3 linked regions of the Homo sapiens genome follow. The protein of the gene in region 1 interacts with the protein of each later gene in a biochemical or structural test. Each region holds a gene or a part of one and is shown in the gene's direction. Other genes may lie near its edges. The genes, in order: RALA, GLS2 and RGL4.

Region 1 (11,280 bases):
GGTAAGTTTATCAAGAGTAGTTTCACAGCAGTATTGGGGGTAAAAGTCTAATATATGGTTGAGGGTAACTTGGAGGTGAGGAATTGGTGATAAGCAAGCATAGACAATTTTCTCAAAAATTCTCCTTAGGGGAAAGGATAATTTGAGCAGAAGCTAGAAGGAGGATATGCATGAAGAAGACACTTTAACAAATGAGAATGCTAATGGCAAGAAACCAGTAAAGAGTGAGAGGCTGAAGACACAACAGAAAGAGAATAATTGATGGACCAAGGTCCCAACTAGACAGGAGTAGCCAAGACCTAGAATACGCATTGAATGATGGCCTCTATTGTAAAAAGAATGGAGGAAGGAATGAGTATAGTTCAAAACTTGTTAATTTGATTATAAGTAGTAACTAACACACACTCATGTTATTATTAATTGAATTCTTATAATAAAGTATATAAGTGTAGAAATATAGAGTAATATAAATATCCTGTTTACTATTACTATTTTCTCTGACTCTCAAGACTCAAACTACCTAGATTCATGGGACCTAGCCAGCCATTTCTTGTTTTGGTAAGTGCCTTATACAATGTCTGAAATACTGCAAATATTTCACAAGTGGTAATTTAACCCCATTTCCTTGGCTGACTCTGGATTCAAATAGTTAGGAGCTTCATCACTGATGATATCTGATTCTTTTTCTAGCTTCTCCATTAGTCTGATCTACTCTACCTGCCATATACCTCCTGAGGTTATAAATATCTTCTGTTCTGGTCTATCACTACTTCTACCTTTTTCCAGGATAAATCAATTCATTTATAATACAATAATTGGTTTTTTTTTTTTTTTTTTTTTTTTTTTTTTTTTTTTTTTTTTTTTTTGAGATGGAGTCTCGCTTTGTTGCCCAGGCTGGAGAGCAGTGGCGCGATCACGGCTCACTGCGAGCTCCGCCTCCCGGGTTCACGCCATTCTCCTGCCTCAGCCTCCCAAAGTGCTGGGATTACAGGAGCCACTAGAAATTGATGCTGGGTATAGGGTAATCCCTCAAAAATAATATAACTTATAAAACTGAATAAAAACAAAAATGGATGTCAATTTTCATAGTGACAGGGACTGACCAAAGGCATATTTTCACAGACTTTGTCCAAATGTATCAAAGAGCATTTTAAAGTATTAAATTGGGTTCTTCCCTTACTAGTAATGAAAATGCATAATTTTATTTATAATTAACAAGTGTAAAAAGTTGTTCAAGATTGAAAAACTGAAAAACTTGCAGAGAAATAAGGGAATAAAATAGAGCCACGTATATCTATTACCTCGTTAAGGGGAAATATTTCATCTGGAAGATCAATCCAAACAATAACTTCTAAAAACTAAATGCTTAATTACATACCAATAAGAATCAATTTTGGAGCTAGTTCAGTGATAGGAAGACAATGTAAAATACCTTATCTTATATGCTAAATTAGATAATATAAAAATACTACACAGCTATACATCCACAATTTTATTTAATAAGTATATCATTAACATTTTCTTAATATATCAGAAAAGATGAAAAGAAACAATATAGAAATATTTTCAGCTATACAAATTCAGGGCTTCCATGACAAATAAAGGCTAAAGATTCCACCTTTATTTACATACATTTTTTTCTTCATAGAAAAAGTCGATATCCAATAAAATGTTACCTAATGTAACCCCAGGCAAAGTGAATGCCATGACTGGACAATGGAGACTTATTCGTTGAACCGTTACACCTAATTACCATGTGCCAGATACTGTTCTAAGCACTCTATGGATGTTAGCTCATTTAATCTTAAAACCATGTCATAGAATATGGTAAAAAATAAAAATGAAAAAACTAAAATTGCTACTTTTCTCCCCACCTCTTCATCCTACCCCATCATATATTGTCAGTAAATGGACAGCAGGAGTCCAATGAAAATATATTTAACTTGGACTCAAAAGATTTGAGTTAGTTTCTGGCTCTATTTAGGGTTCTGTGTGACCTTGAACAAGTTATTGAAACCAGAACTTCCCAAACCTGACTGATCATTGGAATTCAAGGGAGAGTGTTATTACAGTTACAGATGCCTTGGACTTCACCCAGTATTTTCTAATCCTAAATCTAAATATTTTCTGTTTAGAGTGGGACTTGAGAATCTGAATTGCCTTTGAAACTACACAGGTGATTGTGATAAGCAGTCACATTTGGGAACCACTGATAGAGTAGTCTTATCCTCTAATCCCTTGACAGAAAAGTATAGAAATATGTGGTCCACAAGGGTCGTCGGCATGAAGGGGAGAATTATGAAGACCCAAACTCTCATAACCCCACTCTTTACACATTCTCATTAAAGCTGTGTTTAGATATTCTAGATGACCCTTTTGTTGTGGGTCATCCGGACTATCTAAGCCCAACAAACATATCCAGAGGCATATCATACAGGTGACTGTCATCTGCATCACCTACTTAAGCCTATCTCTCCAAGGCATGACGTCATTAAAAATGAAGTGGGAAATTGAGGCAATGGTTCCACCAATTTAAAGTACAAACCCAAATAAACTATCTTCACATGAATGTGCTGAAAATGTGTACGACCTCCTAAAAAAGTTTCTGAGGTGATTGTATCAGCTTTTTTCCCGCTAATTCAACTAAACATCACAATATACATTTTACTCATCCCCAAAATATTTTCTGAGTACTTATTTTGGGCACCATGAAGGATACAAAAATGAATAAAACAATGTACCTGTCTTCAAGCTGGTAAAGATACAGCCATAAACATAAGAATTGTAGTTTTCAGTTTTAAAAACGTTAAGTTTGGCTGAATTTTGGAGATGCTGCAGGCAATCAATAATAAGCCAGAAATGTCCATATTATAAATACATTCTGGACTGTCATATCAAGCTGGTGACCCTGGTATAAAGTACTAAAAGAAACAATATATTTTGAGAATCTCAAAATGTGTGTTTGGGTATGTTACTTGACAACTGTAGTGAATTTTTAAGTCTTTAAAAACTAGTCTCAGAGCGCTAGTCTTTCAGCACTCTGAGCCTATTTCTTTCAACAATTTGTATCTCACAAAATTGTGAAAACAAAATGAAATAGTACAAATGTCAAGGTGTCACGGAATTTTTTTTCTTTTTTGAGACAGGGTTTCATTTTGTTGCCCAGGCTGCAGTACAGTGTAATGATCACAGGCACTGTAGCCTCGACCTCCTGGGTTCAAGGGATCCACCTCAGCCTACTGAGTAACTGGGACCACAGGTGAATGCCACTATGCCTGCCTAGTGTTGTTTTTTTTTAATTTTTTTTTTTAATAGAGATGAGGGCTCCCTATGCTGTCCAAGCTAGTCTTTAACTCCTGTATTCAAGCGATCCACATGCCTCGGCCTCCCAAAATGCTGGGATTACAGGTGTGAGCCACCACACCAAGTCATGGTGTCATGAATCTTATAGATAATGCTCATAACTCTAATAAATAATAAAACATGATTTTGAGTTGATTTTTCACCAGTGGTGACAAATGGCTATTAACCAATTACTTTCTTATCTGGCCCTAAAACACAAAGAAGCCTTGTTTGTCATTGCTGTTCCCAGATGTATAGTTAATATACATTATATGATAATTTTATAAATTGGTATATAAGCAAGTGTATAAAAATAAACATGCACATTATGTAGTCATGAATACATTTAAATGTTTACATTATGCATACACCTCTCTAAAGGAAATACTGAAGTCACCAATTTAATGGAAAAAATTCTCATCTACTTTAGGGATAGACATTGGACAAAACTTCACAAGTCTATATATTTCATTACATGTTTGTGATTAAACAGTGATGAGAATGACAGAGTTTCACAGGAATGTTCAACTTAATTGTGTCAAACATGTAACTGTCTATAAATTCTATAGGGACTGCATTATTCTATGGGGACATGAATAATGTTTTTAATACAAAATTCCAGTTAACTGACTGGAGTAGACTAATCATTAATTCTAAAACATGCTTCTGGCAAATCCCTATCTACCCTGTATTTTCCCCCAAAGCATATATTAGCTATGAGTAGCATGAATATAAAAGTTGTGGTTACCAAAACTTCTTTTTACTTCCCTCTTTCATTAACTATATTTGTTAATACACAAGGTTTGATCATAAATAGTAAAGTCAATTCACAAGTTAAGAAAAAAGATCTAAGTGTATTTCAAAACAGGATCCTTCATGTTCTTTGAGTAATCCAGGCAGCAAAGTCAGGAATGCTCATGGGTGCTACTGGATATTAGTGCTAATTACTAATAATATGTACTTACAATTATGCCCTTTCATCCAAGTACCTCAAAGAGCTTTCATAGCATTAATTTGTTATTTCCTATAATATCTTTGAGAGGCGGCTGATAGAAAGTTATTATTATCTCTATTTTACAGTCAGAGAAACTAGGGCATAGAGAGGTTAAGTAACATTGCTAGGGTCATACGGTGAACAACTGACAAAAAAGGGACTCAAGCTAATTATTCTCATTTCCTGTTCAGTATATTATCCATTATATGGTTGTTCAATACACCTAAATGCTTTTTTATCCTAGACAAATTGAGAATACTGTATTTAAATAATCTAAGACGTAAGTGAACGCGTTTCTCTTTTTTTGTGTGTTCAAAAATGCTGCTCTACAGGGATATAGAGTTAAAAACTAATAATTAGTCTTTGGTTTGCAGCTGTAGCTATTATTTATAGGGCTTTTACTATTTGTGGTTTTCTGAAGCTCTGCTCAAAATGAAGTATTCTATTTCTCACTGCTTTATGCTAGGTTAGCATAGCTGTGAGCCACCAAAAAGCAGCTGAGACAGGCTGACTAATGAATTTGAGGTTGTCTTTCATTGCGTTCCTATTGCTGACTCTTCTTGAAGTCATCCTCCTTCTAGCTCTCCATTCAGCAGATATTTGTGCAACCCACCATCCTCAATCCTCAGCCTATGGCCAGCTTAACTGTTGTCAATGATTAAATTTAAAATATTTTTATTGGAATGGAGCAATTCCTACAGAATAAAAAAGAAAAAAATTAAAATATTAAAATATAAACATAGATAATATTTCATTTTATGAGTTAATGATGCTATACTATTAATAGTTACCACTGTTACATCCAGTTTCTGCTAAACCTGACCTTTAGGGTCCTTAGAAGACCATTAAACATTAGAATATTGGTCTATGGATGGACACATATCACCATATTGGGTTTTTTAATGCAGTATTTCAGTAATTTTCCCAAGTAAAGGCAGGGAGAAAGGAGAAGTGGTTTTGAAACTGTGCTCAATGACGTAAGACTGCAGTCAGCTTGGTTATGGTCATCTAAACCTGTGGTGTTTCCAACTTCAGCCCAGCTCCTCCCTAGAGCTCTAGACCCATATAGCAACCACCATTAGACAGCACCACTCTTACTTCACTCATCAACTCCAAAACTGAACTCATTTTTTTTCTGCAAAAATGTCCCCTCCCAGGACTCATCCTAACTCTTCCTTATCTTATTTAGTAAAATACACCCTTATCCTGCCCCTCCCTCAAAGCAAAACAAGGCATCATCATTGCCTCTTCCATTCTCCTATCTGGCAGCTGCCCCTAGCAACCAATTACCAGTTGATATGGCCTCTTGAATATTTTAGGAATCCATCTCCTTTGGATGCTCACTACCATTCACACAGGGTCCTTAAGTTTTCTCTTACTGGCTTCTGCAATGGCCCCCTTGTGGGCTCTCTGCTTATCCTTCTCTGCCCCCCCACCTCCACCCCCCCAAGTTATCTGTTCTCTACCAACAGAAGAATAGCTTAAATTGTAATCTGTCCACTCATTGCCTCACCAAGGCATAGACGATTCGTGATTTGGCTCCTGTTTTCTTCTCCAGCCTCATCTTCTTCAGCAACCTAAGTTTGAACTTCAAGACCTGTAATTATTACTCATTCTTCTCAACAAATTATTTGTCCCCGTGCTGCATCTCCTTTCTGTTCGGATCCGGATTTGCCATCCCACCCCTATTTTTGTAGTAGAAAATGCCTATTTATCTTTAAAACTCTAACCTACGTTAGTAAAGCTATCCATTCTTCACGCTGTACATCTTGATAAACCATACTTCCAATAGCAATGATTTGCTTTCATGTATGTCTGCCCACTAGACTGGACATTCCTTGAATGGCTCATACCAGGAATATAGTTGGTACTCAATTTGTGGGGAGCAAAGAGAGATAAGCGAATAAATGTCAAGACATAAGAATCTGTAGCTGCTAACTTAAATTTACGGATTTAGTGAAACTACTTCTCACAAGCTACCAAATCACAGTGCCATGGGGCCGCAAGATGATCTCAGTGCCACACCGACACCTGCAGAGTCGCAGGGGGGTCCGACACCCCTCAGAAAGAACTCGCAGACCGTCCGAGAAAGCGAATTCTCCAGGGGATCAGCAGTTAGATGAGGCCCAGGGCAGCCACGAGACCCTCCAGCCAGGGTAGGCGGCTGACCCGCCTCCTGGGATTTGGCCCGTGACAAGCCACGTCGCCAGCTCCGCTCTGAATACCCCCGGCCACGCCACACGAGCGGCCTCAACCCTGAGACGCCCAGGGAACATGAGCTGACCCTCTAGAAGCAAGATGGCGGCCTCCGCTCTCCCCTCCTTCCCCCAAGAACCCCCTCCTGGTCCCCAAAAGAAAGACAAGGACACCGCGGCAACGACGCCGAGATCCGGGAACCTCCGCGAGGCCCGCGGCCACTCCCGAGCCCCCGGGAGATGACTTCACCTCGCGGAGCTCAGAGAGCCGGGGGTGGGGCCGTCGGAAAGACAGCGCGGACAGCCCTCAGCTTGCAGGGGGCGGAGGCCGGGCAGCCTGCGCCCTCCGAGCCACTGTTCTGCGGCCCAGGCCCATGATCACCCTCCTCTCAGCCCACGGACAGGAAGTCGCTCCCCAGCTGCCCCGCCCCGCTCCCCAGCGCCCCGGAAGTGATCTGTGGCGGCTGCTGCAGAGCCGCCAGGAGGAGGGTGGATCTCCCCAGAGCAAAGCGTCGGAGTCCTCCTCCTCCTTCTCCTCCTCCTCCTCCTCCTCCTCCAGCCGCCCAGGCTCCCCCGCCACCCGTCAGACTCCTCCTTCGACCGCTCCCGGCGCGGGGCCTTCCAGGCGACAAGGACCGAGTACCCTCCGGCCGGAGCCACGCAGCCGCGGCTTCCGGAGCCCTCGGGGCGGCGGACTGGCTCGCGGTGCAGGTGAGCGATGCCCGCTCGGGCCGCCCGGGGAGGGACTGGGGCCACCCGGGCGGCGGCGGGGGTGTGTCCGGGCGGCGGCGGGCCGAGGCCCTGACGCGGGTTCGGGCTGCCGAGATTGCACATCCCACGTTCTGCCCGGGGACGAGCTGCGAGATGAGCCCGGCTGGAATCCGGGGCACCGCGTTCGCCGCTGTGGGGCGAGTGAGCCCCCGAGAGTGAGCGGCTGCGGAGAGGTCCCCTGCGCCCGGCAGCCGGTCTCAGTTGGCCTCGTCCGAAGGTCACCCCGCACCTTTCGTCCACGGCGCCCAAGTTCCCGCCCGGGCGGTGCCCGCGACCTGGGGCAACCCGCTGCCGCCGCAGTCCCCGCGCCTCACTCCACCCCTCTCCCCTCCTTCCCTTTCTTTCCACTCCTTGCCTGTGCTAGAGCCGCTGCTTTTTAAGCATCTCCGCCAGGGTTTTTTGTTTGTTTGTTTTGTTTGTTTGTGTTTTTTTTTTTTTTTGCCAGTTAAAGGAATGGTTTTTCAGACTTAAAGTCATTAGACTCTCCGCACTGAACTGAATACCTGGCCTTGGGCGCTTGCACAGCTTTAGCCCATTTTCAGGTAATCTAGCTTCTAATATGAGGAAGAGAATACATTTTGGGAGAGAGGTGTTTCCTCTGTGGTTCGTTTCTGAAAGATTTCCAGAAGTGGAAGATGTGATTGGCATGCTTTAGCCTGGATATATGTGTTTAAGTAGACGGGGGTGACGGCACACAGGGGTGGCAGTGTTGTTTCAGGATTTAGGGAGAATTAGGGAGTTAACTGGCCTGTGCTCGGAAACCTGAATGTCCAGACTTGTAAGAGCTCATCCAAGTGTGGCTGAGGTAGTGTGAGAAGTCCCGTGCCACGCCCTACGTGTCAAGCTGAAAAGCACCTAATTTACAAATTGTGTGGTGTGGGGGGGGAACAACCTTTATAAAACATGTATCATAAGTTAATTCTTTTCCAGAAAGTAAATTGCAACTTTAATCATATTCCAGAAATTGGATAACAGATTTCATTGGTAAACTCTTACAGTATGTTTATTAATGTATTTCAGTGTGTCTTATTAGCTCATGTTTTTCTGTCTCTGGTAATACAATATTATTCTAAACCGACTCCTGTATTAAAATAATACACTATTATTGTGAAGTATTATCTGACAACACCGTTTTTTGACCTTGGATTTCTTTAGGGCAGGAGCCATGTCCTACTTATGACTGTTTCTATGCAGTATGCCTTGAACATAGAAGCTGTTCACACATTTCTGCACTGAATGAATGAGTGTATAGGTTATCTCACAGTCACCATCCAGGAGTTGCTTATTTTTGTTGGGCTAGGCTGTTTGTTTTGTTTTAGGTTCTTGCCACTTACAGACTTTACTTCGTGTTTCATTCTTCAGCAGTCAGAGTTCTTTGCCTTCCAAAACTATCCTCCTCTGAAAGGTTAAAATTATATTAAAATTGTGCTGGGCATTATAACTTGTATTCTAGTGTTAAATGCTTACTACTTGAGCATATTCAGAGTTAGTAGGAAGAGACTGCCTGGTGATACACATCAAGTTTATGTTTGGGGTTGATAACTGTACCCTATCTTAATGAAAAAGAGGAAATTAGGAGTTACCATTGTTTGGATAACGTGGTGCTTCCCAGAATGCTTATAGTGGTTCATTCTTCCCATGAATACACGCAATCCTCTGAAATCCTGATGTGACCTTGGCATGATTTACCAATAGCCTCTTTTACATTTATTTTCCAAGATCCAGATGCTGTTCTCTAGTGTGTTTGCTGAGTGTGCAATAATATGGATCATTTATTTTGAAGCAGTACTTCATTACAACACTTTCTTCACAGGGCTTTCCAAAGGAAGAAAGGGCTAATTATAGAAAAGAATCTTGTCTACCATTTGTGAGGGAATATTTTTGTCTGTAGATGGTTGGATTATTTTCACATTAGGGAGGTTCAAATAAGAAGAAAGTGCTGACGTTTTCTCTCCTCTCCAAGTATGTGGTGGTGGTCCTGCACTGTTTTTCCAAGCTTAGCTTCTACAGAACATAAATACATGTACCAGTGTCAATTCTTGTAGATATGCATATCAGTGTAATATGCATTTGTATTCTTTAGTAGATGAGTGGCAAGGACAATTACTTTTAAAATACTGGAATAAGAGGCTGTGAATGTTAATGAGGAAAAAGACTATGATTTTGAAGGAGACAGTTTATGATTTTCATTGTTTTATAAAATATTTTAACTCTTAGACACTAAGGAGAGGGAAGCCAGCAATTTCTTACCTCAGTGACATTACCACTATACAGAGGTTAGATTTTCCTTCTTTAATTCAGCAACCCTCTTGGTAATAAGAGTTCTCATGTGTTGATTGCCTGCCGAGCACTGTGATAAGAGCTTTACTTAAATTATTTCTAATCTCCACAACACTTCTGCAAGACAGGTAGTTTTCCCATACTTTATTAAGGTAAATTGAAGTTATTTGCCAGAGGCTAGGCACCTAGCTTGTGTTTAGTAGAGCCTAGATTTGAAAGTAACAATTGCTGAGAGCACTGAGTATTATTGCAGTTAATCCTAAATGGCTGTGGAAAAGGCAGTTCTGACTGAGCTGGAACTGGAGCTTCAGGAAGGTGAAGATACTGATTCCTCTCTCTTGGACATCAAGTGTGGCCTGGGGTTGCCAGCAGTCCTGGCCAGGTGGCCTCAAGCAGCAGCCATTCTTCTCTTTTATCTTCAGCGTGCCTACAAATACAGTGTTATCACCGTCCATGTGTGCCATGATGGAAAAATGGTTGGGCATTTTTCCCGTGGGTGTCCCGGTAAAGTATTTGGACTCAATTCTGGTGTTTGATTAGTGCTTTTTAAAGTAACAGAATCGTCCCTATTTGAGAGGAATACCATAAATCTATTTGTAGTGACCTTTCCTTGAAATCACATTTTTTTTAGTTCGTTCTTTCACTAATGGAAATGGGGGAGAAGCTATGGGGGACAGTAGAAAGAATGGTAAAAGAAGCAGAGATGTGCTTGGTCTGTTTTTAACCGTTTGAGACCATTAATCATTTTCTCTGGGTTTAAGATGGAGGCTTAAAAGTGGCAGAAGTCTTGTAAGGGTTTAGCTGCTATTCAGTGCTGGTAGAATTCTCTTCCCTCCTAAGCCTGTGCACTTTTTAAAATGCACTTTTAAATAGGCTTAATTTGAAGAATGTGTCCATCTCTCTCTCTCTCTCTTTTTTTTTTTTAAAAGATGTACCCTTAAGTAAAAAACAGCTGATTGTCTGGCCCCCATAAGTAACAGTTATTCTGTTTTTTCTTTAAGACATCTTTCTTATTACCTTATCGCATTCATAAGGATTTGGGTTGCCGTATAGAAAAAAAGAAATTAAAGTTCTATGGGTTTCTAAAATATGTATGAGTAAATTTTAGGTGAGAATTTGCATCTTTGATTTAATTATACGTGAAGGTGATGACTTAGTTTCTGAAAGTCAAGAGGGTAGTCTTTACAAGCCAAAAAAGGCATGCTTCCATAAAATTATACTATTCTTAAAGGCCTTCACAGCTAGGGTCCTATATTAGATGCAATAGATGTAACACTGACATACATAGTCTCCTTAAAGTCTGGGATCCAATTTTATTGCTGAATTTACTTTTGAAACTAAATGTCAGGGTTTGGTAATGTTATTTTGGACAATAAGACATAGTTAGATTATAAAATGGCGTATACTCCCAGATTTATTGGGAAGGTGGGCAAAGATCCCCCAGTTTCCAAAAGTTATGATTATGGTCATCTAAGCCACAGGATCTGTTTTCTTATGTAGTTGAGAAGCTAACATAGTACTCCATTAAAAGTGGAGGTTGCCACACTGCGTGACCAAACACTGAGTTCAGCTGCCCTGTCTAGATATTCTGGATTACTACAGCAGCCTTCTAGCCTATGGTTGGAACCCATCTGATACTTTTCCCATTCTTGCTTAGAACAATGGTGATATTTCTCTGCTTAAAATCCTCTTGTGGCT
Region 2 (11,194 bases), on another chromosome or scaffold:
CACCCTGTCTGGGAAGTGAGGAGCACCTCTGCCCTGCCGCCCCATCTGGGAGGTGAGGAGCGCCTCTGCCCGGCCACCCATTGTCTGGGAGGTGAGGAGCGCCTCTGCCCGGCTGCCCCGTCTGGGATGTGAGGAGCACCTCTGCCCGGCCGCCACCCTGTCTGGGAAGTGGGGATGGCCTCTGCCCGGCCGCCCCGTCTGGGATGTGAGGAGCGCCTCTGCCCAGCCGCCGCCCCCTCTGGGAGCCGCCCCGTCTGGGAAGTGAGGAGCGTCTCTGCCCGGCCTCCCCGTCTGGGAAGTGGGAAGCGCCTCTGCCCGGCCGCCCCGTCTGGGAAGTGGGGAGCGCCTCTGCCCGGCCACCTCGTCTGGGAAGTGGGGAGCGCCTCTGCCCAGCTGCCACCCCCTCTGGGAGCCGCCCCATCTGGGAAGTGAGCATCTCTGCCCAGCCGCCCCGTCTGGGAAGTGGGGAGCGCCTCTGCCCGGCTGCCCCGTCTGGGAAGTGGGGAGTGCCTCTGCCTGGCCATCGTCTGGGATGTGAGGAGCGCCTCTGCCCAGCTGCCACCCCCTCTGGGAGCCGCCCCATCTGGGAAGTGAGCATCTCTGCCCAGCCGCCCCGTCTGGGAAGTGGGGAGCGCCTCTGCCCAGCTGCCCCGTCTGGGAAGTGGGGAGTGCCTCTGCCCAGCCGCCACCCCCTCTGGGAGCCGCCCCATCTGGGAAGTGAGCGTCTCTGCCCAGCTGCCCCGTCTGGGAAGTGGGGAGTGCCTCTGCCCGGCCGCCCTGTCTGGGAAGTGGGGAGCGCCTCTGCCCGGCCGCCCCGTCTGGGAAGTGAGGAGCATCTCTGCCTGGTCGCCCCATCTGGGAAGTGAGGAGCACCTCTGCCCAGCCGCCACCCTGTCTAGGAATTGAGGAGCGCCTCTGCCCGGCTGCCCCATCTGGGAAGTGAGGAGCACCTCTGCCTGGCCACCCGCTCTGGGAAGTGAGGAGCGCCTCTGCCCGGCCGCCCCCTCTGGGAAGTGAGGAGCGCCTCTGCCCGGCCGCCCCCTCTGGGAAGTGAGGAGCACCTCTGCCCAGCCACCCCGTCTGGGAAGTGGGGAGCGACTCTGCCCAGCCGCCCCGTCTGGGAGGTGTACCCAACAGCTCTGAAGAGACAGCGACCATCGAGAACGGGCCATGATGACGATGGCGGTTTTGTCGAAAAGAAAAGGGAGAAATGTGGGGAAAAGAAAGATCAGATTGTTACTGTGTCTGTAGAAAGAAGTAGACATAGGAGACTCCATTTTGTTCTGTACTAAGAAAAATTCTTCTGCCTTGGGATGCTGTTAATCTATAACCTTACCCGAACCCCGTGCTCTCTGAAACATGTGCTGTGTCAACTCAGGGTTAAATGGATTAAGGGCGGTGCAAGATGTGCTTTGTTAAACAGATGCTTGAAGGCAGCATGCACATTAAGAGTCATCACCACTCCCTAATCTCAAGTACCCAGGGACACAAACACTGTGGAAGGCTGCAGGGACCTCTGCCTAGGAAAACCAGAGACCTTTGTTCACATGTTTATCTGCTGACCTTCTCTCCACTATTATCCTATGACCCTGCCACATCCCCTTCTCCGAGAAACACCCAAGAATGATCAATAAATACTTAAAAAAAAAAAAAAAAAGAAAATTCATACAGTTAAAAAAAAAAAAAAACTTTCCTGAAAATCAGAAAACTAGAATGACAGTTTTTTTGCAAACTGACAGGTCAAAGTAGGTGATGTAAAAAATTTCAAATTATATACAATCTTAATAAAATATGGCTTATGGAGCATTTCACTTAGGTAAATGTGGTTAAAAGTTAATTTAACCTAGTCTTTTAGAGAAGGGTCTCATTTGTTCACTACAGAGTAATACAAGATTCTGACATCTTTCATAGTCTTTAAGTCAAAGAAAAACAAGTATTAAAATACTATTTCTCTAGCAATAACTTGGAGAAGGGAAAAAAGAAAAAAGAAAATGCTATCAAGCAAACCCCGAAGGTATTTTCTTCTTGCTGTGTTGGCAAAGGCTTTCAAATTCCTTCAAATTAGCTTTCGCCTACAGACTTTTCTAAATCCTTTTTAGGAATTCTAGCAAAATCTACATTATTTTAGTATATTTTGTTGATTAAGACTTGCTAGAATCTACTTTAATAGCTATTGGAGAACCCAGATTATACAAGATATTATTTGGAAAAATAGAGAAAATGCATGTTAGGCATCGTAAATGGACCAGTGTGATGATATGTTTTTTAATAGGCTTATATTTATATTTTTTCAGTCCTATAAATGTTCATTTTGTTATTGCTAAACCAAAGAAGAATTAGGAAAGCACACTGGAGTAGATCACAGACACGCTTAAACTTTTATTAAATTTCATTTACTCCATGAAAGTCTAGCATCAAGTTAAAACATGCATCCCATACCTACATCCTCAGTTTCATTGGTCCCCATTCTTTTTTTTTTTTTTTTTTTTTTTTTTGAGATGGAGTCTCGCTGTCACCCAGGCTGGAGTGCAGTGGCGCGATCTTGGCTCACTGCAACCTCTGCCTCCCAGGTTCAACTGATTCTCCTGCCTCAGCCTCCTGAGTAGCTGAGATTACAGGTGCATGCCACCACGCCTGGCTAATTTTTGTATTTTCAGTAGAGATGGGGTTTCACCGTGTTGGTCAGGCTGGTCTCGAACTCCTGACCTTGTGATCTGCCCACCTCAGTCTCCCAAAGTGCTGGGATTACAGGCATAAGCCACCACGCCCGGCTGGTCCACATTCTTATACCCACGTTTCATTCCAACCAAACTAGAGGTAGAGTCCCTCAAATGTTCCTCTCAGGCTATGTTTATTCTTGTAGAGCCCTCTGTCTGAAACACCTCTCGTGCTTTAAAAACCAGCTCCTGTCAGTCACCATTCCTCTTCTATCCCAGTGGCCCTTCACCCCCAGCTTAGTTAGATGTCCCCTTTATACTTTCTTCTGCATGTCTCTACATCACAGCATTTTTCATTAGGAATTTTAAACATAAGCTTTCTCATTTCTCCCAGTAGAAACTGGTTTATTAAATTTTTAAATTTCTGGATTTTCCAGCACTGGACCTGGCACACTGAATGCCAACAAATAAATATTAATTGAGTGAATGGAAGCTCATTATGTCAGAGCCCCAAGTACTTACATTTTACCCAGTAAAATACAAGTTTATCTTTTACAAATGGAGAAACTAAGGCAGAAAGGAGTTTGTAACAATAGTATCATTAACAAAGATTAATAAAAAAATGAACTAATCTTTTACTTGGACCAATTAACATCCTAGCTACAGTCTAAAGAGTAGAACAGGCCAGGTGCGGTGGCTCACACCTGCAATCCTAGCACTTTGAGAGGCTGAGGCGGGCAAATCAAGGGGTCAGGAGTTCGAGACCAGCCTGGCCAACATAGTGAAACTCCGTCACTACTAAAAATACGAAAATTAGCCGAGCATATTGGCGGGTGCCTGTAATCCCAGCTATTCGGAAGGCTGAGGCAGGAGAATTGCTTGAACCCGGGAGGCGGATGTTGCAGTGAGCCAAGATCACACCATTGCACTCCAGCATGGACGACAGAGCGAGACTCCATCACACACACACACACACACACACACACACACACACACAAAATAGAGTAGAACAAATGAGTCTCTAAATCATAAGAAATAAACAAACTCCAAACATCAATTTCCTATCACAGAGGATTAGCTTTTCCTTCTTTCTTTCTTTTCTTTTTTTTTTTTTGTTTGAGACGGAGTTTTGCTCTTGTTGCCCGGGCTGGAGTGCAATGGCGTGATCTCAGCTCACCGCAACCTCCGCCTCCCAGATTCAAGCAATTCTCCTGCCTCAGCCTCCTGAGCAGCTGGGATTACAGGCATGAGCCACCGCGCCCGGCCCGGATTTAGCTTTTATTAAGGATTCAAAATCATTAAGTCTAATCCTCTCTCACATACCACAAAACTCTGGCACAGCCATGGACTAACCTAAAAGCCCACTGTTAGAGACACAAAGAACTTTCTTTCAGTTATGAAAATCTTCATTTCTAGCTGCCCTTGTCATAGTTGGCTAATAGTTTTGCACAAATTAAACTAGATGATGAGTATTTTTCAAATTAGAAACAAAAAGAGGACCTGACCCTGCCAAGCTTTAACCACCTGGGACAACAAACTTGTTCTTCTCCAGCATCTTATACTTTACACAGTACCATTGGCCTCCCAAGTCACCAGTTCATGCTCCATCCTCATGCAAAGACAGCAATATTGTATTGGAGACAGTTAGTCCAAAGGTCCAAGTGCAGCTGGAGCTAGTTCTCTAAGCAAAGAACCTCTGCTTCCATGCATAGATCTTCTTCACTACCCAACCAGTTCCTATTAGTGGAAGAGTGCTGGGAGAAAGAGAGTAAGGAACTCATTAGAGTATAAAGCTAATTCAAAGAGGCAGAAATAGGAAAAAAAGGAAGCAAATTACTTCTGGGTAATGTTTAGAAATTCCCTAACAGATGGTATTTTTCTCTTGAATAGATCAAAACGTTTCAGATAAATCATATTTCTATGAAACAAGGATAAGATTCGTCTGTTACGTATGAAAAAAACTAATGCAGGATTGAGTTTACGTTAAGTATTGAGACCCAGAACTCTGCCTCTTGGGCAAAGCCAAGCATAAAGCAGCAAGCCCTCCCAGAATTAGACGGCTTTCCACGGACAGGAGAACAGATACAGCAGACACAGAATGACTACAGAAGGCGAAAACAAGCAAAAACAAATGTCACTCCATCTGGTTTTAAGCCAAATAAGCCCTCCAACCCTAACCAAGGCAAAGGAGAACTGCCTTTCCACAGAACACACCTGACTGGTTTCAGTACTTGTTTTCCCACGAGTACCCTTGAAACTCATTTTAATCCAAAAATGAAAACTATGGGACAAGCACGGTGGCTCATGCCTGTAATCCCAGCACTTGTGGGAGGCTGAGGCGGGCGGATCATCTGAGGTCAGGAGTTTGAGACCAGCCTGACCGATATGGCGAAACCACATCTTTACTAAATACAAAAAATTAGCTGGGCGAGGTAGCAGGCGCCTGTAATCCCAGCTACTAGGGAGGCTGAGGCAGGAGAATCGCATGAACCCAGGAGGCGGAGGTTGCAGTGAGTCGAGATTGCGCCATTGCACTCCAGCTAGGGCAACAAGAGCAAAACTTCGTCTCAAAAACAAACAAACAAAAACTAGTATTTTGTGATACAGCCAGAACTATCACAAGGAAAAGACTCCCAGTACTGTATCATAATACTTCCACATAAAATACCTCCTTTAGGGATGGGGTCATTTCTCCCGGGATAATTCAATTCAATGCTTAATTTTTGAGAAGGGCTGCATGAAGGAGAGACTTGTAGTTAAAAAAAAAAAACGGGTCTAATTTCTGGTTCTGGTACTTACTAGCTGGGTTACCTTATGCGAGAATTCTTAATTTCCTAGTCTTAGTTTCCTCACCTTCAAATTGAGACTAATAACTACTTTGTAGGTCTCTGGTAAGAGGGAGAGAGAAACTAAGCGGTTGGAACACCATGGGCACTCAATAATAGCTATCATTTACATAATGAGTCCCTACTAAATATGGATGCTGGGTTAGGCGCTGCCGAGATACAAGGTGAAAGTTCTAGCTGCAAATGGCAAAAGTCCTGAATGTTCTTGGATTTCAAAATGCTTTTTGTATATCGCCTCTTTTCTGCCCGTGAGGAGGACAAGGGCAAACAATTAAAATAGGAAAAATGTGGGGAGCACTTCATGGTTTATAAAACGTTTTTCTGCGTGCCAACTTATTTTAATGTCTTAACTTTCCAGATTTGAAAACAAGTCCTACACCAAATAAATGGTAGAGGGACACAAACTGGAACCCAGGCTTCCTAACCGCCAGAGCGACCTTCCCGCCGCCCAATGCCTCCCTGAGGTGCTGGTCGGCTGCTTCTGCCCGGGGTACCCAGCAGTCATCCTACTCTCCACTCAGCACCACCGCACGTCGGCCGCGCGCCACGCTACCCGCCGGGTTACTGGGCGCTGGTTTGGCCTTCGGAGGTCGAGGCTCTCTGAGTGACCTCCTGAACTGGGCTCACTCTTACTTAGCCTCCTCTCTCGAGGCAGCACCCTCCTCTCTACACGACAACTCCATCATTCGCAGCCCCACGGTGTTCCCGGGGAGCGCCTCCCGCCCCCACCGGCTTCGCCTCAGCTTGTCCTCGCCTTTCCCGCCCTCAGCATCCGCGGATACCCGCGCTCGCCGGGCCCACGCGGAAGCATCCGCAGACTGTCGCAAGGTCCCACCGTCTTGCTCTCATTGGGCAACCTTACCCTTTCCCCGCCTCAATGTTTTTGCTTCCTCAGTGATTGGACCTGGGCATTGTCCATTCCAGCTCCCAGGCACCGCCCTCTCTCCACCCACTAGAAAGCCACCCGGGTTCTCCTTCATCCCCAACGCTCCTCACCTAGCCCCTGTCCTGAGGGTGCCCCTAACCCTGGAGCCAGCTTTAAAGGGGCAGGCCCCTTCTCCTGCCCCAGCCCCAGCCCCACCCACCGGGCCCACATTCTCCGTCTTCCAGGTCCAGCGCTCCCTCACAGAACTCCCCCGCACCTTGTCTCGCTCGCTCCGCCCCTCCTTCCCAGCCACAGCTAGAGGTCCCGGGCGCACCTGCAGAGCCGGAGGCTTGCTGGGGCATGCGCTCCATGAAGGCTCTGCAGAAGGCCCTGAGCCGGGCTGGCAGTCACTGCGGGCGAGGAGGCTGGGGTCACCCGAGCCGGAGCCCCCTCCTTGGCGGGGGCGTCCGGCACCACCTCAGTGAGGCCGCGGCGCAGGGCAGAGAGACGCCACACAGCCACCAGCCGCAGCACCAGGATCAGTAAGGCTCCTGGGACAGGGCAGGGGACGGGCTTGCCCCCACTCCCACTGTGGTTCTCGCTAGTTCCCGAGTGCCCTTCCAAGGCAGCGCCGCTCATCTCCCCTCTCCTCGCTCACTAGCCCTCGGTGCCTTTTCCTTTGGATGTGGGGCTTTGGGTGCGCCGCGCTCGGGCGGTAATCTGCCGTCTGCCTAGGAGTGCGTTCGGGCAAGCGGGTCCTGGGGATGGCGCCTGTCCAAGGTGCGCACTTAACCCGGATCACAGATGCGCGCCGAGTGTTGCTTGGCTCACGTGTCTGAGTGCAGGGCCGGGCTCACGCCGCCAGTCCTCACCTTCCCTAGTCCTCGTGTGTATTTTAGGAGATGCGTGGATGTGGAACAGCCTCCTGCCTCCGGTCCAGGTGTACTGGGGTCTGTGTGTTGTGTTTCTGCGTGTTCTCGGCAGGTAATGTGTGATGCGCGTGTATTATTGGTGCGCAGGTACGTCCATAAGTGTTGGGTGTGTGCGTAGCAGTGCTCCCTGAACAGCAGAATGGGGGGGAATTTCCAAACTGGTTGTTGAATGGGGAGAATATTTGTAATGGAGGAAAGGTCTTTAAGACGCAGATTTCCCAAACCAGAGCCAGTCAGAGCCTTTATTTGTGCTGCCCAGGCTCCAGAATCTAAAACGTTCTCTTCCTTTGGGTGTTTCTTCCACCCAGGATGCCAAACCTTTATCTTCCCCACCGCCTAGGACACACTTGGTGGCTGAGCCTTTTTCTCTGAGACCCAGACGGTGCTGAGCAGGAAATCTTGTCCTCCCCAGAGGGCCAGCATAGACACTGTCCAAAGAGCCCCTGCTCTACTGTAGCAGGAACAGGAAATGGGCCATCTCCCTCGTCGCTGCCATCTCCCTGATGACACTCAGAAACATGGACACCATCAGTAAAGTAGCCAGACTGACACAACACTACCTCACCACTACTCGAGTCTCTGACACAACACTACCTCACCACTACTCGAGTCTCTGTCGTAAGGGACACCAATAGGTATTATTTATTATTAATGACATTATGCAGTACTTTTATTTCTTTCTTTTTTGAGACGGAGTCTCACTCTGTCACACAGGCTGGAGTGCAGTGGCACCATCTCGACTCACTGCAATCTCCACCTCCTGGGTTCAAGTAATTCTCCTGCCTCAGCCTCTCGAATAGCTGGGATTACCTCGAGTAGCTGGGATTACAGGTGCGCGCCACCACAACCCGCTACTTTTTGTAGTTTTAGTAGAGACAGGGTTTCACCGTGTTGGCCCTGCTGGTCTTGAACTCCTGACTTCAGGTGATCCGCCTGCCTCAGCCTCCCAAAGTGCTGCGATTACAGGCATGAGCCACCACGCCCGGCCCTTTTCTCTTTTTCATAGTCATGGTGTCTGCTTATCCATATTACACAGTACTTTCCCATCAGCTTCTTCTTAAAGAGACACAGAACATTTAAAGGATAAGCCCTCTCCCTCCTGTTCTAGTCTCCACCCCAACTTCCCCCCAGGTATTCACCATGGGAGAAATAATGGTGGGATACAGCAAAGGCTGAACTTCCCTCATCTGTCCGCCTTCTGCAGAGTAGGGAACTAGAGGTATCCCTGGTTCCCCACACACACACCTCCTTATCCAGTGGAGTCTGGTGATGGAAGTGTTTTTAGGGGACCTTGTTTCTTCTGCCCAGGGAACCCCCTATCATATCCTCGGACTGGTGCTCCCCAGGCAGAAAGGGTTGAGAGCACTGGAGAGTGATGTGCTCTGGCAGTGTGACACCATGATGGGGTGGGGTTCCTGTGTTTGGGGGAGGAAAGAGAGCAGCAAAGAGGAAATGCGCTGTTATTCAGGTTATTGTTTGTTTAATATTTAGCTATTTAGCTGTATTTATGACTTTTTTTTTTTTTTTTTTTTGGAGACAGAGTCTCTTTGCCGCCCAGGCTGGAGTGCAGTGGCGCAATCTCGGCTCACTGCAACCTCTGCCTCAGCTTCCTGAGTAGCTGGGATTACAGGCACCCACCACTACGACTGGCTAATTTTTGTATTTTTAATAGAGATGGGGTTTCACCATGTTGGCCAGGCTGGTCTCAAACTCATGACCTCAGATAATCCACCTGCCTCGGCCTCCCAAAGTGCTGGGATTATAGGCGTGAGCCACCGTGCCGGGCCATATTTATGACTTTAAAAGAAACACAAGAGTATCAAGAGGAAAATATCCCAACACAAAGAAATGATAAATGTTTGAGATGATGGATATACTAATTACCCTTATCTGATCACTATAATCCTGTGTATTGAAACATTGCTATGCATCCCATAAACATGTGTACAATTATGTTTCAATTAAAAAATATATAAATTTAGAGCCAGGTGCAGTGGCTCACACCTGTAATCCCAGCACTGTGGGTGGCCAAGGCAGGGGGATCACTTGAGCTCAGGAGTTCGAAACCAGCTTGGGCAGCATGGCAAAACCCTGTCTCTGCCAAAAAAAAAAAAATACAGAAATTAACCAGGCATGGTGGCGCATGCCTGTAGTCCCAGCTACTTGGGAGATTGATGTGGGAGGATCACTTGAGCCCTGTAGGTCGAGGCTGTAGTGATCCATGATTGCATCACCACACTCCAGCCTAGGCAACAGAGCAAGACCCTGTGTCAAAAATAAATAAATAAGTTTATTACTTAAAAATTTTAAAAAGAAATATCCCAGTATTAGAGATAACCAATTAATATTGTGATATATTCATATATATCCTATATATGTATATGTAATTTAACAAAAATGGGATAATAGTCATATTCTTGAACTTATCTTTTTCATTTATGAACAGCTTTTAATATCATCGAATGTGTATGACATTGTCATCTTGTCATTTTAAAAGATTCCATTGTTTGAGGTATCATAGTTTATATAACCAGTCTTCAATTTGGTTACTATATAGTCTTGTACACTTGTTCAATTATTTCATAAATTCCAAGGAAATTTTGCCCCCAGAGATAATTTGATGTCATTAATATCATGTATAGTCTTCTAGAGATATTTTATGCATAAAATACATGCTGATACTACTTTACCTTTTTTTATACAAATGGTATCCTATAAACAATGTTCCTATACCTTGCTTTTTTGGTATCATACTATACACATTGCTGTTGTACGTTGCTTGTTTTCCCTCAACATTACATTGGTGATCCATCCATATCTGAGGGATATGCAGTTTTTTTAGGCTTGTGATACATTCAGTGGTATAGCATTATTTCCTGTCTTCTGTTGGCTTCCAGGCAGAGTCCTGCCTTCAGAGTGTTCCTATGTACTTTCCTTCTTGAGTTATCCCTCAGATAGCTTTTTTCCTCCTCTCCCCCCTATAGGCATTAGCTTCATTGTGACAACCGGATTTCCCCAGAAGCAGGAAAACTCTTCTGGTATTCCCTCTTCTGGTACTCCTCCTGACTCCAAACACACACATGCCTAGTCTATGCCAAGCTGTTTGAGTATTATTTTTTAATCCATTGTTTCAATAGATAATATATTCCATATGGTTCAAAATTCAAAATATACAAAAGATAGTGAAAAGTATCCTCCCATCCCTTTTTCCTGGCACCTATGTCATCTCTGTAGAAGGAGATGAATCAATCTTACCTATTTATGTATTTATGTATTTGAGATGGAGTCTCGCTCTGTTGCCCAGGCTGGAGAGCAGTGGCGTAATCTCAGCTCACTGCAACCTCCGCCTCCTGGGTTCAAGCGATTCTCCTGCCTCAGCCTCCTGAGTAGCTGGGATTACAGGTGCGCGCCACCACACCCGGCTAATTCTTGTACTTTTAGTAGAGATGGGGTTTCACCATGTTGGTCAGGCTGGTCTCGAACTCCTTACCTCATGATCCGCCCACCTTAGGCTCCCAAAGTGCTGGGATTACAGGCATGAGCCACCATGCCCAGCCAGTCTTACCTATTTCTACCTAAATGGTCTTCTAGAAATATCCTGTGCCTGAATAAGCAAACACATATATATTTTTCCCTTTTAAACCTGTGCTTCAACCTGAGAAAACTGATATAAGAAAAAAAAGAAAAAACAAATGAAAAAATAAAGCTAGCACTAAAGAACTTACTCATGTAACCAAACACCACCTGTTCCCCAAAAACCTATTGAAATAAAAAAATAAATTTAAAAATAAAAATAAATAAAACTGGGCATGGTGGCATACACCTATAGTCCCAGCTACTAGGGAGGCTGAGGCAGAAGGATCACTTGAGCCCAGGAGTTCAAGGCCAGCTTGA
Region 3 (9,399 bases), on another chromosome or scaffold:
CACCTCCATTTTGTTCAACTGGCCCCCCGAAAACACTTCAGTTTACTATCAGCCCCCGCAACGGTCATCTTTCCGGATAAAGCTGGCCTTCAGGAACCTCTCCTGGCCTGGACTGGGCTTGGAGGACCATCAGGAAATTGTCCTAGGCCAGTTGGTGCTTCCGGAGCCCAACGAGGCCAAGCCAGATGGTGAGGGGGCTTGCAGTCTGCAAGACTTTCCGGGGGTGGTGTTTTGGGGCTACAATTCCCTTAAATTCCACCCGGTCATTTCTGTGCTTGGAAAACCCAGTGAAAAATGACTGGTGTGGTGACCTTTTCTCCTTTTCCAGATCCTGCTCCACGTCCTGGGCAACACGCATTAACAATGCCGGCCCTGGAGCCAGCACCACCACTGCTGGCGGACCTGGGGCCTGCTCTGGAGCCAGAGTCACCTGCAGCCCTGGGTCCACCAGGATATCTACATTCAGCACCAGGGCCAGCACCAGCACCAGGGGAAGGGCCCCCTCCAGGGACAGTGCTGGAGCCACAGTCAGCCCCAGAGTCCTCCTGTCCCTGTCGTGGGTCTGTAAAGAACCAACCCAGTGAGGAGCTGCCTGACATGACGACCTTCCCTCCCAGGCTGCTGGCAGAGCAGCTGACCCTCATGGATGCGGTGAGCAGCTGAGCTTTGCAGGCTGTGTCTCTGGCACCAGCTGTCTCAGACCAGCCTCTCCCTGAGGAGCAGCCAATGCCCTCGGTCCAATTTCAGCCCCACTTCTTACCAACCGTGGGATCTGGATGAGTTTCCTCACCCACAAGCCTTCCCTGTCTGCATGTGGACGGCAGAGATGGGACATCACCAGCGCCAGCTGCACAGAGTGACTGTGCAGACTGAGTGACAGGAGATGGACAGAAAGCAGGGCAGGGCAGGTGCTCACTGTGGGGCAGGCAGGGCCATGGGTCACTCACCCAGCTGCTCAGGAGCCTCACTACCCTCAGCACTTATTAGGTACCTGATGCATACTGGATTCTATGGTAGACACCCAAACAGAGCCCATAGTTGCAGCTGCCACAAGGAAAGTGCACCGGTACGGAGAGGAGTAGTAGAGGGCTGATTGGGATGGGAGGAAGACGAGGCCTCAGGATGGGCAGGCCTGAGCCACCTTCTAGTTCTTAGAGTGTGGATGGCCTGGGAGAAAATGTCACTCTCTCTTCCCACCCTTGTTGGGTTCTAGGCCATGATGCATTCAGGTCCCTCGGGGGCAGAAAACCAAACCCAGGGACTCCCACAAGTCTGGAGCCCATTTTAAAGCTTTCTGAGCTCCAGCTTGGTTCCTGCCAGAGACCGTGGATGACTGTGAGCTCAGTCCCTGCCTGGGACTGTGGGTGACTCTGAGCTGCAGTGTGCTGTGTCCGTGACACTCTCCTCCTCCCCCAAAGGAGCTGTTCAAGAAGGTGGTGCTCCACGAATGCTTGGGCTGCATCTGGGGCCAAGGACATCTGAAGGGGAATGAGCACATGGCACCCACAGTTCGTGCCACCATCGCACACTTCAACAGGCTCACCAACTGCATCACCACCTCCTGCCTCGGGGACCACAGCATGAGGGCCCGGGACAGGGCCAGGGTGGTGGAGCACTGGATCAAGGTGGCCAGGGTAAGCTATGGTTGGGCCTGGGGATTCCCTCTTTAAAAATGGGGAACTTCCTCTTCTCCTCCATCGGCTTTCAGGATCGGCATCTGTATCTCTGGCCTGGACCCTGCACATCCCCTAGGCTCTTCTTGCCAGAGCTTCACTCACCTTGACTCCCACGGCCCAGTGGTGGCTGCTCACTTCCGACCTGGGGTCTTCCTTGGGTTGAACTAAAATCCTCCTAGATGAGTGACATCCACTCGGCCCCAGGTCTGCCCTCCTGAGGCTCCCCAGGCCTCTGCTTCATCCAGGAGGGGAGATCTCAGCAGAGGGGGCTGAGGCTGTAGTGGGCCAAGCTCCAACTCTGAACCGCACAGCTCATTCTTCCCTCTCCAGGAGTGCCTAAGCCTCAACAACTTCTCCTCGGTGCACGTCATCGTCTCTGCTCTGTGCAGCAACCCAATAGGTCAGCTACACAAGACGTGGGCAGGAGTGTCCAGGTGAGGAGGGCTCTCTCCATGGCAGCATCAGGGTTGACCTAGGGACTCACAGGTCTCCCCCCATGTGCCCTCAATGACTCTGAAAGGTTCTTGGAGTCCAGGGACACTGGAGGCAGGGATGGGCCGGTGGCTGTGGTCACTAAGCTGCCCTGGACTCCTAGGCAAGGATTTCCAACTCAGGACTAAGGTTTTTTAACCATCAGGAACAGACTGGAGCCAACTGGAGGCTTTCAGGTGTTTGTACCCAGCAGTGGAACTCTGTGTCCAGCTGAAAGCTAACTGTAAACACGCAGTGGCTCATGTGAAGTGGAGATGGGGCCCAGGGGAGGAGCATGAGAGGTCCCACCCTGGTCCTCTGGAGCCCCTGTGATCAGAGGACTCCACTGAAAACTCTCACCCAGTAAGCTGGGATTCACTGGGTTTTCAAACAAAAGGGACTGGAACTCACAAATCTCCCCTGATTCCCAAATTTACCCTTCTTTCTTTCCTCTGCCCATAGCAAAAGCATGAAAGAGCTAAAAGAACTCTGCAAAAAAGACACTGCAGTGAAGAGGGACCTACTGATCAAGGTACAGTGGAGTCTGGGAGATGCAGGACAAGTGTTTAAGGGTCAGAGAAAAGAGTGAGTTTGGAAGGGCATTGGACCAGGTGTCGAGTGGTTATTTTGTTTGGTTTTGACTTACCTACTAAAAGTGGACTTGAAAAATTCCCTCCATGCCTACCTTGGGCCAACAGGAAGAGTGGTGTGTCGGTCCATGGGCACGTGGGGGCATGGGGGCAGGAGGCCCTGGAAATGGGATGTGGCAATGGCTGCTGGGCTGCTGGGCTGCTGAGCAGGGGTGATGAGCTGCAGCATTAGCAGGGCTCTGGCTCCCATGCTGGTCCATGCTGCTGGCATGGAGCTTCCTCCAGGCTGGAGGGTGATCATGGTAGGTGGGACTTCCTTCCTTCCTCAAACCGGCCAGCAATTCCTCAGGAAGCCAGGCCTCTGCTGCTGCTGCTGCTGCTGCTGCTGCTGCTGCTGCTGTCTGCAGCACACCTCCATGGGCAGGGGGCCTTGGCCTGCACTGGGGGAGAGGGGGAACAACAACAGAGGAAGCTCATGTGGCAGGGAGTCCAGTAACTGCCCAGCTTTGGGTACCAATGGGCATACTGGGGACAGACGTAGCTGTTTGCTGGGACTCCCCACTCTGCCCTTTGCAGACACCCAAAAACGGTCATGTCAGAGGATTCTCACCGGTTAGCAGCGACGCATGCTCATGACAAGTATCTGGGGGATTCATACATTGCTAGGGGATCCTCCCTGACCAGATCTCAGAATCGTCCATGCAAATGAGAAGGCAACATGTCACCCCACCCAGGACTCTGGAAAACCCTGCCATTGCAGTCAGAGATGGCGCATCAGGAGGCTACTTCCTCAGTGGAGAAAGAGAGAGTTCCGTGCACGGAACTCCCCTGGGGGATCATTGGCGAGGCGAAGCCTTTGGCATGGCTCAAACCCAGTTTGCGTGGCAGAGATTCCAGTGGGGCTGGGATAGGCAGGTGCCACTTAACCAGGTCTCCTAAAATGCCCTGTCCCTTTCCCATCACGACTGTATGTGGCTGGAGACCTAGACACTCAAAGACTCCAGAGAACACGACCCTGATGGGTGGTGGTGCTGGGATGTGAGCTGAAGGCAGCCGAGACGGAGCCTCCAGGAGCAGAAGGAGGCGTCCTCTCTTTGGGGGCCCTGGGGAGCCACTGCCCGCTCTGGGCCTCTGTTTCCTCATCTGGAAAATGAAGGGATGCTGAGCCTGTAGTGCAGGCCTCACAGGGTAGAAATGAAGTTCAAGAAAAGAAAGCAATTTGAGGGTGCTCGTGCCTGGTTCTTCCTCAGAGGGATGACGGTGAGAACAACGGCAACAGCTACAGGAAACTGAGCCCTCAGAGGCCCTGTGAGGTAGCTGTGGTTTGCATCACTCTTTACAGAAGAGGAAACAGTCTCAGGGAGGCCCGGCTGCAAGACTGGGTGACACACACAGGGAGTGTGGATCTGGGCCAGTGGTATGAGCACGGTGCCAGGTGGCTCCCGCCACTCCCTGGGGATCCAAGTGCGGGGTGGCTGGGGTGTAACTGGGGGAGAGGAGGAGAGCCTCACTGTCCCTGTCGCTGACACCTGGCAGGCGGGGAGCTTTAAGGTGGCCACCCAGGAGAGGAACCCCCAGAGAGTCCAGATGAGGCTGCGGAGGCAGAAGAAGGTGAGTGAGCCTGTGGCATGGACGGGCCGCAGGGGATCAGAGGACAGGGCTCCCTTCCCCGCCAGCTGGAGGCCTCCATATCAAGACAGCGGGGGCTTCCTCCCCAGCCCTGTCCTCCTGTGGCCACTGGGCCTGGAAAACCTTCATTTGAGAGACCAGAGGAAGGGTCTGGGAAAGCTGGACTCAGACTAGATGTGGGGAAGGGTAAAGCTGGGACCACAGGCCTTTGTGACTTGTTAAAATCCCACCATAGAGGTTAACAAGGAGTGCTTGCTAGACTTGGAGGTCAGCTGGGATACAGGAGGCAGAGAATTGGGAAAGGCAGCTGAGGGTCTTTGGCTGCTCCAACCGGGAGACCTGAGGAGGGGGCTCTGGGAGACAGGGGCTGATGGGATTTCATGGGACAGGACCTTGGGCAGGCACCTGAGGGCCAATACTCATCACCACTACCCCTCCCACCTCCCCACCCCTCCTTGGCACAGGGTGTGGTCCCCTTCCTGGGGGATTTTCTGACTGAGTTACAGAGGCTGGATTCGGCCATCCCGGACGACCTGGATGTGAGTGAGCCTGGGGCAGGGTGCTTGGGAACCAAGATCCTGAAGCTTGGGAGGAGAGGGTCCTGGACCGAGCCTTTAGATCTCAGCCCTTGGCAAACCTCCTCTCCTAAGAGCCTCACAGCTGCTCCTGTGGGTGGGGGTGTCAGGCCCATCTCATCACCTCTGAGTGATGGAGGCTCCATGGCAGCCACCAGGCCCTATTCCTGAGTGGTGAAGCTGCAGAGCTGCCTGACTGCAAAGCTGCTGAGGTGTGGGCTGAACTGGGCTCAGCTTCTCCCTAGGGTAGTCCCGTAATAGGAGGGTGAAATTGAGCCTCTCCAAGGGCAGGCAGTTCCAAGGTCACTGAGCGCTTTCTTTCTATGAGAGACCTCAGTTTCCCTGTCTGTCATCACAGAGGGTTGGGGCAGAAGGTCCCTGGGCCTCAGCTCCCATTCCCCCTGCTCTAGAGCCCGGAGCCTGAGGCAGGTCCAAGTCCTGTCGTGTGCACATCCCCTGACCCTGGTGGCCCTGGCAGTAGTGCAGCATGGGAAGGGGTGGGGTGGGGCTGGTTGTGGGCCAGGGGCCTTTCTGATGGACTCTGTCTGCCTTCCAGGGCAACACCAACAAGAGGAGCAAGGTGAGCAGCTGGGGCACTCACGTTGGATGAGGGTGGGGATGTGGACGTCACAGTCCACCCTGGGCAGGACACTCCCTGGCTCCATCCTCTACATCTTAGGCTTACTGGGAGTGTTTGACACACACAGGAGGAGGGGACCTATCCCAGGAGAAAATGGGAAAAGCACTGGAATCAAAGACCAATTCCTGCAGGAGGGGCTGTTTATATCCAACTCTGAGAACAGGCTGGGGGCGCTGCATGGGACCCCTTCAGAAAACTGCCCCAGGGACCAGCCCCTTCTCCCTGCCTGCCAAAGGCCCCCACAGCAACTTCCACCCAGGCCCTGTCAGCATCCTGTCCTCTGTCTCTAGGAGGTCCGAGTTCTGCAGGAAATGCAGCTGCTCCAAGTGGCTGCCATGAATTACAGGCTTCGGCCTCTTGAGAAATTTGTCACCTATTTCACAAGAATGGAGCAGCTCAGTGACAAAGAGAGGTGAGGGCCTAGCCCATGGGCTGAGGGTGGGAGAAGGCTCTCCATTTTTTTTTTTTAACATGGTCTGGCTCTGTCGCCCAGGCTGCACTGCAGTGTCACCATCTCTGTTCACTGCAACGTCTGCCTTCTGGGCTCAAGTCCTTCCTCAGCCTCCCAAGCAGCTGGGACTACCGCTGTACACCACCATGTCCGGTTGTTCTGCTGTTGTTGTTCTGGTACAGATGGGGTTTCACGATGATGTCCAGGATCGTCTCAAACTCCTGGCCTCAAGCAATCCACCCACCTCAGCCTCCCAAAGTACTGACGTTACAGGTGTGAGCCACCCCACCTGGCCTAGAGGAGGCTCTCCCGTGGCCAGCTGCAGAGAGCCTATGGCCATGCCTCCACGGCCAGCATCAAGCCCTGTTGCATGGGGACCACTGGGGACCCAGGATTCCAGCTGGGCAGGCACTGACAGGGGACCTGATGTGTGGCTCATGGTGGCCTCACAGCTGCTTCTCTGTCCTGCAGCTACAAGCTGTCCTGCCAGCTGGAGCCCGAAAACCCGTAGGCTGGCAACATCCTGCAGTGGCTGGGAACCCACCGGGATGCTGGCCAGAACACCGGCTCTGCACCATCCCTCACCCAGACCGTAGACACCAGGGAACCACATCTAGGAGGCTGGCAGCTCAGCTGCATCTTGCCCTGGATCCTCATCACCAACTGCTCCTGCTGGCCAGGATCAGGCCATGGGACTTTTGTGAGTCAGGCGGGAGACCATTTTATGTTTATTTTCTTTAGTGTATAAGTAAGGGTTTTTTCTTAACTTTCGTTAAAATAAAATTTTAAAAAACTATTCAAAATGTTCTGTAGTTGTTGGAATGAGAAAAGTAACTCCAGTGCGGTAACCATATACCAGTCTTTAGGATTCATAGCCTAGCATGTCAAATTGAGGCTATGGCTGAACAAGTTATGGAATAGCATTCACATTACACATGCCAAGCATTTAATGTTTTCCTTCTTTATTCAAATTATTGTTAACTCTGCTTAAGAAAACAAACAGAACAAAACAAAACCCCTTAAAAGCCATAGTATGTCACCCAATCTATGTCACCCATAGTATGTCACATTTGTTCTACTGACCAGCTATTCTCAAACTTAAATTCTAGTTAAATTCAAGTTCCACTGGGTTACTCAATTTTCTTAAGGTTTAAATATTTAACAAATCACTTAAATATTTACTGAAGGGCTGGAGATGGGAGGTATTTAAGCAAGTGGTAGGGCTGGCCTTCTCCAGAAGTCCTGGGCAGAAGGGAGCTGGCCATCAGTCTCCACGAAATACAGATAAACTTTTTCCACTGTGGATCTTCCCAGACCTTCTGACACCTCTCCCCTAAATGAACATCAAGGAAGGTGAGAACTGTTTGAACTCAGTATCTAAAAGATGTCCCACAGCTTAATTTGAACACAACCCCCATTGTGGGATATCAGACAAAAACATGCCAAAGAAATCAACATTTCAGGGTCTGAAACATGTAATACCCCCAAATCAACACAAAATAGACACCTAAATCCAATCCTGGAGCCGCAAAGCTCCTATAAGAAAAGCGGGAGTTTCTATTTCGGCAAAACTTGTATCTATGCACGCAGTTTGCAAAAAAGAAAGAAAAGAAAACCAAAAATTATCTATGGCAAGAAACCCTTTGACCATGCAATTGATTTGGCAATACTTTTTCTTATTTTTTATTCTTTTTGGATGGAAAACAAAAATGTGAATACAAACACATAGGACTAAACATCATTTTAGAGCTTCCGCATGGGGAAGAGAAACAATGAACCATTAAAGAAGGCATCCTACAGATTGAAAGAAAGTTCAGCAGAATCATCTGTGAAAGGGGTTGTTATCTAACATGTACAAGAAACTAACACTACTCTTAACTGGAAAAATGAACAAAACCTAATACCCAAGCTAAAACTGGGCAAAGAACCTGAACAGGCACATCTGAAGAGAAAACACGAAATTGACTGACAGGTCAAAGAGAAGTTGCTCAACTTCACTAATCCTCACACAAATGTCTAACTGCAAACCAGACTCAGATACCTCTCACTCTAATTAGAATGAAACTTACCAAAAACAACAAAAAACCCATATGTTCACAGGCAGTGGCCAACGTAGAAACGCAGAAAAAGACACTTTTATAAACTATTGGTGGGAAGGTACATTACTAGACACACGAAGCGAAGCAGTTGAAGGTGCCTTAAACATTTTACATTACAACTACCCGTTCACCTATCAATCCCACCACTGGTTATACACAGAAAGCGCATGGAATCTGTTATGTTGAAGAGATATCGGCCTTCCTATGGTGACTGAAGCACTACTCACAATAGCAAAGGTATCCAATCCACCTACCTGTTCATGCACAGATAAAGGGATAAAGAAACTGCAGCACGCAGTGGAATCCTCTTCGGCCGCAGAAATTCATGAAATCATGTCATCTGCAGCAACGTGCAGAAACCTGGAGGACATGACCTTCAACAAAATGAGTCAGGCAGAGAAAGACAAACAGCATGATTTCATGCATGTGAGAATGAGATCAACTTTCTCTCTAAACGACTTTATCTCCTAGAACTAGAAAGTTCCACAGTGGTGAAGAGAGGCGGGGGGTTGGGGAGTCCGGGCAGGAACTGGGAAATGGATACAATGTTACATTCAGATGACAGGAATAAATTCAGCTGTTCTACTCCACAGTAGGGTGTCTAGAGTTAACAGTATCCTACCATATTTTCCAAAAAAGGCTGAAAAGAAGGATTCTGCATATTGCAACGACAGAGAACTAATAAATAATAACTACACAAGGTAACAGAGACAGTCAATGCCTTGCTTTCATCATTACACAAGGTATATATGCATGATCAAAATGTCCCACTCTACTCTTTAACTGTATACCTTTACTACAGAGCAAATTGGTTTTAAGGACACAGAAATAAACAATGCTGGAGTTCATGTGACACCAGGAAATGCCCGGCATTTCCAAAGCAATTCTGAGAAATCCAAACTACATTGGATGCATCACATTCTCTGATTTGAAATTTCACTCAAACTCTAGGGACCTGCTTCCACATGGATGAGTGGAAGAGAACCTGAAGTAAACCCACACACCTCATACGACCTGATTTTGGATGAAATACACAATGATAAGTAATGGGGAAAGAACTCCCTTTTCAATAGTCTTGGGGTAAGTGGCGAGCCATATGCAGAACAGTAAGTAACACTAGGCCTCTACTTCTCACCATGTGCAAAAGTTCACTCCGATGAATGAAAGATGTAAATGGAAGACCTCAAACTACAAAAATCCTACAAGAGACCCTAGGAAGTACCCTTCTCGACATCGGCTTTGACAAAGCATTTATATGCCTAAGACCC

Evidence for each region.
Region 2: the proteins of RALA (region 1) and GLS2 form a complex in vitro, tested with the Homo sapiens proteins (one study listed by BioGRID).
Region 3: the proteins of RALA (region 1) and RGL4 form a complex in vitro, tested with the Homo sapiens proteins (one study listed by BioGRID).

What each region holds. Positions count from the first base shown.
Region 1 is NC_000007.14:39,616,584-39,627,863, forward strand, and holds the start of RALA (ras-related protein Ral-A precursor), read left to right. Parts: upstream 1-6,988; 5' UTR 6,989-7,242; intron 7,243-7,743; exon of another isoform or gene 7,744-7,844; intron 7,845-11,280. UniProt on the Homo sapiens protein: Multifunctional GTPase involved in a variety of cellular processes including gene expression, cell migration, cell proliferation, oncogenic transformation and membrane trafficking.
Region 2 is NC_000012.12:56,483,653-56,494,846, reverse strand, and holds the start of GLS2 (glutaminase liver isoform, mitochondrial isoform 1 precursor), read left to right. Parts: upstream 1-6,685; 5' UTR 6,686-6,728; coding exon 6,729-6,910; intron 6,911-7,247; exon of another isoform or gene 7,248-7,278; coding exon of another isoform or gene 7,279-7,352; intron 7,353-7,514; exon of another isoform or gene 7,515-7,860; intron 7,861-7,894; exon of another isoform or gene 7,895-8,007; intron 8,008-11,194.
Region 3 is NC_000022.11:23,692,341-23,701,739, forward strand, and holds the end of RGL4 (ral-GDS-related protein), read left to right. Parts: coding exon 1-188; intron 189-328; coding exon 329-651; intron 652-1,418; coding exon 1,419-1,634; intron 1,635-1,778; exon of another isoform or gene 1,779-2,006; coding exon 2,007-2,110; exon of another isoform or gene 2,111-2,609; coding exon 2,610-2,679; exon of another isoform or gene 2,680-3,177; intron 3,178-4,075; exon of another isoform or gene 4,076-4,154; intron 4,155-4,273; coding exon 4,274-4,348; intron 4,349-4,830; coding exon 4,831-4,905; intron 4,906-5,497; coding exon 5,498-5,521; intron 5,522-5,871; coding exon 5,872-5,993; intron 5,994-6,214; coding exon of another isoform or gene 6,215-6,305; intron 6,306-6,503; coding exon 6,504-6,543; coding exon of another isoform or gene 6,544-6,773; 3' UTR 6,774-6,828; downstream 6,829-9,399.